Regions from separate parts of the Homo sapiens genome. Here region 2 is linked to region 1. The links come from fine-mapping of genetic effects on gene expression. A gene starts in region 1. The other region holds a variant in brackets. All regions are shown on one strand. Distances are between the middles of the regions. Region 1 holds the start of UBE2L6 (ubiquitin conjugating enzyme E2 L6). Region 2 overlaps CTNND1 (catenin delta 1).

Region 1 (5,376 bases):
GGTCTCGAACTCCTAGGCTCAAGCAGTCCGCGAACCTCAGCCTCCCAAAGTGCTGATATTACAGGAGTGGGACACCACGCCTGGCCTTCATTAGTTTTCATTTTGCTTGTTTGTTTATGTAATCAGTGTTAACTTGTCATCAGTTTAAAATAACAGGTTATAAGATATTATTTACAAACCTTGTAGTAACCTCAAATCTAAAAACATACAATGGATACATAACAGTTATGTGACCCAAAATGTCAGTAGTGATGAGGTTGAGAAACTGAAGCTCTCCAAACCCAGTCCACAAGTGGGGAGGGGTCCTTTAACACTGTGGACCATTTGAACTTTCTCTGCCTTACCCCCACCCCCAACATATAATATAAACACATCCCATGCCCCCCTCCTATCCCTCAGCCTATGTTCTATTTCTGTTCAACCAATAAGCTGCTTCTGGTGCCTTCCACCCAGGGTCAATGGCCCTTCATTTATCTTTACCCCAAACTAGAAGCATCTGCACTTGTAAGAGTTTCTCTATCATCTGTGACTCTTTGGCAAGAACAAAGCCCAGGGCTGACCGGAGAAGATCTGGAATAGACATTTTCCAGGTCTTGGAAAGATAAAGACACTTGAACTTTATCTGTTTAGGATGAGTTCTGCCAGAACTTTCCCAAAGCCTGAGGAAGTTGAAACCCAACCTAAAACACACAGTTCTTTCCTACTGCCTACTAGGAAATCACCTGACTCAGAGGAACAGAAAATGAAAGTAGAAAGGCCATTAAGAGAGCCTGCAGGCTGGAGGCCTGTGGACCTGGTTTCATATTCCAGTCCCATTGCTCCTTACTGAAAGACTCTGGACAAGCAAGTTATTTCCTCTGTGCCTCAATTTCCTCATTTGTAAAATGCGGGTATATATTACTTATCTCACAGAACTGCTGTGCGAATTAGATGAAATAACCATGTAAACCGTTTGGCATGTAATGGTTCCAATGCAATAAATTCTGGCTCCCATCTCTCTTCCACTTGGCTGGAAAGACCCTCTGCCTCATTTTGCTGCCAACCTCCAGATTTAGTATCTAGGCCAAGCCTGCTCTGGGCATCCCAGTCTGAGGCCATTTTCTTCTCAGAGGCTGAGGGTAGCAGGCACCCTCTTCCTAGAGCCTGCCCCTCCACCCTGCAGACTGGAAGGGGCACTTCTGAAAGACTTGGGGTGCCAGACTCACTTCACCAGGATCACCTTCCTCCCTAATCCATCTCCAAACACCCTGGGTTTTCCCACCTTCTGGAGGAAACTGCCCCCTCCCCATCCTTCCAGATCTTATTTCAAATTGTGTCCCTGATAGGAACAAAATTCAACAAGGGCCGGATTTGTGTTCATCTCTGCCCGCCCCCCCCCCCCTCCTAGAACAGGGCCAGCACATGTAGGCATTCAACACTTGTAGAACTCACGAACGCAAGCCACCTACTCCAGGAGGCCTTCCAGGTCCACCTCCGCATCTTTTCCTCCAGAGAATACTCAGGGAACTTTGTCCCAAATTCTAATCAGCATTCCGTGTTTCTCAGGACTCTAGTAATACAGGCATCAAATTATGGGATGGGCTATGGGCTTATTCCAAGGCAAGGACTTCATCCTGGTCATCTGTGTTCATAACCCACCACCAGCAGTAGCAGAATGCCTGGCACCAAGATGCCAAGGACTTTTCCTGCACTGGAGATGCACCCAGTTGTTATCACAAGTTTCAGGCAGGAAAAGCGAAATTGAAACCAGTTTTGGGGGAGCCGGCTCATCTTCACCACGCGAACGGCTCAAGCAGAGGCCTCCAAACCCCCAAAACCCCAGCTCTGGCCACTCTTGCAGGCCAGTCCTCCTCTGAGTAGAGGGCGGGGAGGACAGGGATTCAGCCAGCCCTGGTGCCCAGACAAATAAATAAATGTGCTCGGAGAGCCGCGGAGGGGATGGAGGGAGGAGGGAATGCGGGAGGCGAGGGGAGCCAAGAGAAAGGGGTCATCCTATACGCGGTTACCTTCACCACTCGCATGCTCGCCATCATGTCGGGACCGAGTGTGTGGCACCCGTGGCCTCCAGCAGGACCGAGCTCCGACCCGCGACACAGCGCGCCCCGCCCCGCCCCGGGGACCCCACCCCCGGCAGCCCCGCCCACCCCTCCTCCAGCCGTCGCTGCGTGGGCCTCCCCGCACCCGCTCCGGCGAGGCCAGGAGGCCGTCGAAGGACGACCCGCCGGACAACCGCCCGATCCCCGCGCGGAAGGCTCGGACCCGGGACTCACGGTCTTTGTGCGGAGACGGGGGCGGGCCTCGGGGCGCACGGCTTTGCTGATCCCTGCCTCCCGCGGGGTGCGCCGTGCACCGGCGGCGAGCGCTCAGGGGCGCTGGGGGGCGCTCATACGGGTTCCAGTCTTCGCTCCGCCGGCGGCCGCACCGGGAGCTCTCCGGTCTTTGTCAGCCCCCTGCACGCCGCCCCAAATACACACTCGCCCTGAATAAATAAGGGATGCTCGCTGTACAGACGCAGCTCCGTGACAGTTCTCAGCGGCCTCCACTATCGGACTGCCGCCTTGAGCCCCTGCCCCAGCAAGCTGCCGGAGCCGCCGAGCCTGCCGCCTTCCCTCCATGGGCCCAGCGCTCCATCTCCGAAACTGCGTGGGGGATGGCGTAGACCTGTGCCCTCCGAGCACCGCTCCCCGGCAGTCGGGGATCCTTTGTGCTGCCCGGCGTTCGGCGCGGGCTGCAACGTTTCTCCCCGTGGCTTGGGGCAGAGCACCGCAAGGAGGCGCTGTTGGACCCTTTCTCTTTTGCTTTGGGGGTTCGGTCTACCATCATTCAGTCCTTTACTAGGTTTAGTATTTACTAAGTGCCTACTGTATGCTGGTTTGGGAAACAGTTGGTGGGGGAAGCCCCAAGAAGGACTCAGGAGCCTCCTTTCCAAGAGAGAGTCTGCTTCCCCTCCCTTACTTTACTACTGGTCCATTACAAGCTGTGGGCCTAATGTGTGCCCCCATGCACAGCTGGAGTCCCCAACCCTCTGTGCAAGGACAGAGTACTTGCAGCCCCTGAGCACCAAGCAGCATCTGGGGAAGATGAGACTTGTTGGGAGGGCCGATCCCCTCCTTCTCACCCTTCCCTACCCCCGTTTAGTCCAGACGAGAAAGGAAATCAGTATATTTTGAGCACCAGTTTGTGATCTCAGTACCTCACAGTTTTTTTGTTTCTTGTTTTTCTGACAGAGTTTCACTGTCGCCCTGACTGGAGTTCAGTGGCGATATCGGCTCACTGCAACCTCCGCCTCCCGGTTCAAGCTGTTCTCGTGCCTCAGCCTCCTGAGTAGCTGAGATTTACAGGCGCGCGCCACCACGACCGGCTCATTTTTGTATTTTTAGTAGAGTCAGGGTCTCGAGCTCCTGGTTTCAAGTAATCCACCCGCCTCGGCCTCCCAAAGTGTTGGAATTACAGGCGTGAGCCACCGTAATGTTTTTATCCAAGTATTTTGAAACCAAATGACTTCTCTGCTCAGATTTTGCAGAACGATTAATTGTTTCATTCAATTCAATGAACTTTAACAGCATTTTCTATATGCCCGAAATGAATAGGACACTCCGTAATCCCTTAACAGGGGTAGAGATGAGGGAACAAAGACATTCGAACCTGCCTGTGATCAATAGTCTCAGTCAACAAGCGCCTACTACTGAGTGGCAGGCATTGCCAATAGGAAACACCAGGATGAGAAAGGGGAGTCCCTGCTCCTGAGGAGTTAGTTCCCAGACTACTGGGACAGAGGGAGAGAATGCAGCCCCTGATTTTTAATGATAATGCTATAGAGAATCACCTGGTACTCTGGGAGTATGAGGAGGGTCACTTTATCCCTCTTCAGGGAGGGGCAGAGGTTTCCCGGAAGAGAGAAAAATCCAAGTGTATTGTGAAACATGATGAGTCAGCGAGAAGTAAGAGCGTGGGATGAAGATGTTCTAACAAGAGGGAACAGCATGAGCAAACGGGGCAGTGTCTATGGAAACTGGAGCAAAAGCCTCTGTCCACGTATCGTAGCTCTCCTTTTCTTTTCTTACAGGAACGCTGCATCCCGAGGTGAATTAACAGTCATGGATATAGCTGGGTCCTAAGTCCCCACACAGTGGGGCAGCCCACTGGTGTGCCTTTCATGTCCTTTCACAATGCAGACCTTTGTGTGTCAGAACAAGCCCCAGGGAGACCTGGGTTCTAGTTCCACATCTGCCCCCATGTGCAGTTATGGCCTTGGGTGGTCGGCGGAAACTCCTATCTGCTTGCCAGGACCATTGTGAGGCTAAGCTGAGGGAAGTGGAGGAACTTAGAATATTGTAAGTCGCCGGGCGCAGTGGCTCACGCGTGTAATCCCAGCACTTTGGGAGGCCGAGGCAGGCGGATCACCTGAGATCAGGAGTTCGAGACCAGCCTGACCAATATGGTGAAACCTCGTCTCTACTAAAAATACAAAAATTAGCCGGGCATGGTGGTGGGTGCCTGTAATCTCAGCTAGTCAGGAGGCTGAGGCAGGAGAATCGCTTGAACCCAGGAGGCAGAGGTTGCAGTGAGCCAAGATCACGCCATTGCACTCCAGCCTGGGGGACAGAGCAAGACTCCGCTCAAAGAAAAAAAGAAAAGAAAATTCTAAGTCCGAGGCCTGGCATGGTGGCTCATGCCTATAATCCCAGCACTCTGGGAGGCCAAGGCAGGCGGATTACCTGAGGTCAGGAGTTCGAGACCAGCCTGGCTAACATGGCGATACCTCGTCTCTACTAAAAACACAAAAATTAGCCAGGTGTAATGGCGTGCGCCTGTAATCCCAGCTACTGGGGAGGCTGAGGCAGGAGAATCACTTGAACCTGGGAGGCAGAGGTTGCAGTGAGCCGAGACCGGGCCATTGCACTCCAGCCTGGGCGACAAGAGCGAAACTCTGTCTCAAAAAGCAAAACAAGAAAATTGTAATTCCAGGATATAAACAATCAGGTTTGAATCCCAGCTCCACTATTTTTGGCTAAATAACCTTGGGCACATTACTTAACCTGTCTGTGCCTCCATTTCCTCATCTGTTAAATGGAGCTCATAACAGTGGATGTGAGAAACAATGAGTTGATATTTGCAAAGAACTTAACTTTGAATGGTGGACAATAAGTGACAGTTATGATAATGATAACATAATAAATATTAAAATGATGTCAGGTGCCTGCCTCAGAGTGAATGTACCAGGCTGTAGGAACAGATGCCTGAGCTTGCTCCCTTAGAACAACAGCAACACTATTTTCTCCAGTAGGAGACCCTGTTTTACTTCTCCCTGATCTGGTCACTGGCATTTATTCATCCATCTACAAAATTTATTGAGCACCTACTTATACAAGGCCC
Region 2 (5,376 bases), 220 kb after region 1:
CCCGGGCATTTGTGCTTGGTGGGGCTCTGGGGAGCGTGGGAAAGGGAACTGAAGCAAAAGGCTCAGCCTAGGCTAGTCCCCACATGTCTTCCCCACACAACTTTTGCATTGGTTTCTCAATGTCTTTGTGGGCATGCTGGGACTGGGCTTTGAGGTTTCTGCCTTAGGGGTGGGAAGGGAGGGGGAAGGGCATTCCAACAGCAGTTTTTTTCTTTTTCCCCAATTTGGTTGCTGGAAACAGGGTAAATGGATTTTTATACATATTATAACCTGTTCCTGGTTATATATGGAAATACAAATAGAGGAGCTCTCACTTGACAGTAGAATCCAGGTTTTAATGAAAATGACATCCAAGGCCTAGGTATCTGAACACAACAAGGTCTAAAGGGCACTTGTCACATTAAGCAATTCCAAGTCATATTTTAAATTACTTCCTTTCATTCCTAATATTGCCCCTTGCTCTTCTTGTTTTTATGTATTGGGTATATTTTATTTTCCTCTCATTCCCATTTTTCCTTCAAATATTTCTGCAGCTCTCTCCTTCCTGCTTCCTCCTTGCTGTGGTGGCTGGGATGCTTCTTCCATGATTTTTTGAATCTAGACTGGGCTGTTCTCTGTGTTAAACCAATCAGTTGCGACCTTCTCTTAACAGGTGTGTATGGAAATATGTTTATTAAGAAGGAAAAATCTTACTTTTTAAGAAATATGTATTTTTATTCCTTTCATGTCATAGCAGAAAAAAATCTTTTTAAATACCTTTTTTCTTTATGGGTTGGTGAGAGGGTGGGAATTGGGGAGAATATTTATTTCAAAACCTGTCTTTCAACATTGTATATTTTGGACTGGCATAAAGTCTTTCATAGCTATAAGAGAGAAAAAAACCCATTGAGTCCAACAGAGTATCACTAATGCCTGTAAAACCTCCTGTTTATATAATGGTATGGAGAACTCTTCATTTTTATATAACTATCTTTTATTGTATAGATAGCACACATAGACCCTCTAGATACTTGGATATTTATCCTGAGTTGGAACAAATAAAAGGGTAAAAAGATAGTCTATTTAAAACAAGAGTGTCCAATCTTTTGGCTTCCCTGGGCTACAGTGGAAGAAGAATTGTGTTGGGCCATACATAATGTACGCTAAGGATAGCCAATGAGCTAAAAAAGAATTGCAAAAAAAAAAATCTCATAATGTTTCAAGAAAGTTTACAAATTTGTGTTGGGCCGCATTCAAAGCTGTCCTGGGCTGCATGCGTCCCGCGGGCCAAGGGTTGGACAAGCTTGAGTTAGAGGTTTCTGCAGGATTACAGAGATGTGGGAACTTCCAGCCATTGACGTGTGGAGGTTAGGATATGAACTACTGTGAGGTGCACTTTCAGAGGTTGAGGCTAATACTCCTTTTCCTACTTCCCAAGGAGGTGAAGTTTCCTGAAGACAGTGCTTTTTTACATGTAGAGTTTTTTGTGGTTCTGTTACTCTGTTGTCTCCATTAGTCAAGGAACACGTTTTGCCATCAATATAATATTTAACAAACTATAGTAGTATAGTTTGGAAAGTAGAAACGCCCTTTTATGAATGTATTATTATATTTTTGGAGGCAGAGTCTCACTCTGTTGTCCAGCCTGGAGTGCAGCGGTGCCATCTCGGCTCACTACACTCTCCGTCTCCTGGGTTCACGCAATTCTCATGCCTCGGCTGGGATTACAGGTGCCTACCACCATGCCTGGCTAATTTTTGTATTTTTAGTAGAGATAAGGTTTCCCCATGTTGGCCAGGCTGGTCTTGACCAACTGAACCTGACCTCAAGTGATCCACCCACCTCGGCCTCGTAAAGTGCTGGGATTACAGGTGTGAGCCACCTACTTTCATTTCTTTCTTTCTTTTTTTTTTTTTTTTGAGACGGAGTCTTGCATTGTCGCCCCAGCTGGAGTGCAATGGCGCGATCTTGGCTCACTGCAACCTCCGCTATTCTCCTGCCTCAGCCTCCCGAGTTGCTGGGATTATAGGAGTACGCCACCACACCCGGCTAATTTTGTCTGTGTGTGTGTTTTTTTTTTTTTTTTTTTTTTTGAGACGGAGTCTTGCACTGTCGCCTAGGCTGGAGTGCAATAGTGCGATCTTGGCTCACTGTAAGCTCCACCTCCGGCGTTCACGCCATTCTCCTGTCTCAGCCTCCCGAGTAGCTGGAATTACAGGCTCCCGCCACCACGCCCGGCCTTTTTTTGTATTTTTTTAGTAGAGACAGGGTTTCACTATGTTGGCCAGACTGGTCTCGAACTTCTGACCTCGTGATCCGCCTGCTTCGGCCTCCCAAAGTGCTGGGATTACAGGTGTAAGCCACAGTGCCCGGCCTTTTCATTTCTTAATTGGCATTTAGTTTAGCATAGTAATTTTTTTTTTTTAATTTGCTG[C/T]CACTTCAGCAGTTTTAGTGTTTAGATGTGGGAGAGGTTAAGTAAGATCTGTATTGCCCTATTATCTCTAAAAGTGGCTTGTCCCTGCAGGATAGTGAATGCTTGTCTGTACCATTGGAGTTACACATTTCATTGAGTTGATACCAGCAGATTTTTTTCAGGGAAAAATAATCCAATCTCATAACTACAGCACCTCACCACATTCTCCCTCTCCTAACAGTGTAGAGACTTAGATTTAATTGCACCTTTCCTTTCAATAGTTATTTCTGGTGGGATGTTGAAGAAAGCTAGTGGGCAAAGGATTCCGCTTGAACAGACACTGGTGATGGGCTCCCAGGCTTGGCGGTGGCTTGCTTTCTGCACTGCAGTAAAACCACGAGAGGGCATCTTTGGCTCTGGGATTAATAATTCATCTGTCTTCTCTGACCTGTGACCTTTTCTCTCCTTTCTCTTACCCTTTCCCGGTAGTGTGAAGTGAGGGGGTCTCTCTCCCTCCTTCTCCTTCCTCTGTGATTCACCTTCCTTTTTACCCTGCCCTGCGGCGGCTCCGCCCCTTACCTTCATGGACGACTCAGAGGTGGAGTCGACCGCCAGCATCTTGGCCTCTGTGAAGGAACAAGAGGCCCAGTTTGAGAAGCTGACCCGGGCGCTGGAGGAGGAACGGCGCCACGTCTCGGCGCAGCTGGAACGCGTCCGGGTCTCACCACAAGATGCCAACCCACTCATGGCCAACGGCACACTCACCCGCCGGCATCAGGTAACCCCTCTCTCCATCAGACGTGCAGGTAGGACTTTGGCATGGTCACAGAGAGGCTATGATCCTTTTTGGGAAGCTACTCTCCTTTTGGTGATGGGCTGTCCAGTGCCCGTTCTTCCAGGGATTTTTTTCCAGGGGTGTTAAATGCTGATAAGAGACAAGGAATATTGCTGCTGGACTGAGCTGGGTGCAGTTACTATCTCTAGAAGCATCCATCTGACTTCCTGTTTTGCTGGAGTAGGTTTTTTGGGGTGGGCTACAATTCTAGTAATGGTAGATAGTTTAGTTTGCAGCTGTACTCAAGTTACTTTTCTTTTCTGATTTTTTTTTCTTGGTATCAAAAAATCAGGAAAGTAAATGCCCACTTAATGGTTGGGCATCTTGTGCTCTCAGCCCTAGTTCAGTCTCCCTGAGGGAACAGTCTGTACCCAGGTGTGGCAGTATCCATAAATTGTGTACTCCTGCTCCATATTGTCCTTGTGTGCTCTTTTTGTTGGCTGTGTAAATCATGTGTTGGAGGAAGGGGTCATTGTTAATTCTGTTGGTTAGAGTTGGAGAGGGAGCATCATGCTGCTGTTTAACCCAAATAACCACAGGAGCCAGTGGTCTCTGGGTTGGCTGACTCTGTGATGTGACTTGGGAGAGTTGGTGTTAGAAATGAGAAGTATCTTGTGTTTCCTCTGGTTTTTCTAGTCTGACTTTGCTGTGATGTAATCTGTCTGAGGTTTTGTCTGTCTTCCTCTGTGTGTGTGTGCGTGTGTGCGCGCGCACTCGCGCATGTGTGTGTGTGGTAGACATTGCCTGATAGATTGCATCTTACGAGAGATCTCTGAGTGGGAACCAGAACAGTACTCATGCCCTGATAGTCCTTTTCATTGAGTAATTTTTATTTATTTATTTAAATAGGAGTGCAGTGGTGCAATCTTGGCTCACTGCAACGTTCGCCTCCCGGGTTCAAGCAATTCTCCTGCCTCAGCCTCCTGAGTAGCTGGGACTACAGGCGTGTGCCACCACACCCAGCCAATTTTTGTAGTTTTAGTAGAAATGGGGTTTCACCATGTTGGCCAGGATGGTCTCGATCTCTTGACCTCGTGATCCACCTGCCTCGGCCTCCCAAAGTACTGGGATTACGCGTGAGCTACTGCACCCGGCTGAGTGATTTTTTTTTTTTTTTTTTTAAGATAGAGAAAGTCCCTCATACTGAGGAGCCTTGCAGTTGAGAGAGAACAGAATTCCAGTTGGAGGATCAAGGAATTTGAGGGAGGCAGCATGCTTGCAGTGTTCCTAGGATTTTTACAGGAACTACAATAGAAAGTTAGGGATGAAATTATATTGAAAGGAGAAAGCTGGACTGCTCAGGTTTGGAGGTCATGGGGAATTCCAGGATTCAGTATGTGGTTGCTCTCTTATTTTTAACTTCTGCTTAGCAGTAAAACCACACCCTTCCTTCTTCCTGAAAGTAATGTTTAACTTCCTCTCCCTGCAGCATTACACTCTATGTAATGGGAGTGGGGTGGAGGAAGAGTCTCCCAAGGTGGTTGGATCTCACTATTCTACTGGAAGAGGAGCAGGCAAATATATTTTTATGTGGTATAATGTCATTAGATTATTTCCTGCTGCTTAAGACAGAGCAACTTCTGGATGACATTTTGGAATGTATTCTGTGGCTCTAATAATTGTTGGTAAAGATATTGAGCCTTCTGTTTTCTTGAGGGGAGTTGGGGTGCTTGTTTTTGTACTTGGAAAGGGAGACTCGTATCTCTTGCTTTTTTCTTTAATTAAATTTCTGTTTTTTACATTAGGACATGATAGCCATCTTGCTTCTTTCTTTAAAAAGCTGCCTGGAATGGGAGTTTCCAGTGGTAGTACTGCATGAAGATTCATGAGACTATAAAGCTCTTTGGAAACCCCCCAACTTAGCCCTTCCAACTTTCCTTACATTTTTATGGCTTTCCAAAAAGGTTGCATGTAAGGGAAATTATCTAGGTCTGTGCTGTTTATTCAGCAAATAGTTTTTGAGCACCTGTTATGTGCCAGGCACTGTTCAAGGCACTAGACTAAACTAAACTTATCCCAAAAAACCCTCTGCCCTCGTGGAGTTTACGTTCTTATGTTCCAGAGACCCTGTCTGCCAGAGTTCCAGGCCTGATTTTCAATTTTGAGGAAAGTGCTAAGACTAAAGAGTGAATGGTTCTTTTATGAGTAC

The links.
Region 2: its variant is fine-mapped to the expression of UBE2L6 in lung (TOPMed, PIP 0.99).

What each region holds. Positions count from the first base shown.
Region 1 is chr11:57,565,579-57,570,954 of GRCh38, forward strand. It overlaps UBE2L6 (ubiquitin conjugating enzyme E2 L6), which reads right to left and starts at 2,094. Exons shown (of 4, transcript NM_004223.5): 1 at 2,007-2,094. The coding sequence starts at 2,033. RefSeq lists an enhancer at 495-844 and a silencer at 2,098-2,457.
Region 2 is chr11:57,788,504-57,793,879 of GRCh38, forward strand. CTNND1 (catenin delta 1) reads left to right here. Exons shown (of 21, transcript NM_001085458.2): 2 at 534-652; 3 at 2,882-3,170. The coding sequence starts at 2,976. It overlaps TMX2-CTNND1 (TMX2-CTNND1 readthrough (NMD candidate)), which reads left to right. Exons shown (of 21, transcript NR_037646.1): 3 at 534-652; 4 at 2,882-3,170. Among named protein-coding and RNA genes, the nearest start is that of CTNND1, 29 kb to the left of the region's middle. RefSeq lists enhancers at 40-219, 3,774-4,068. The variant C/T (reference allele first, on the strand shown) is at 2,414.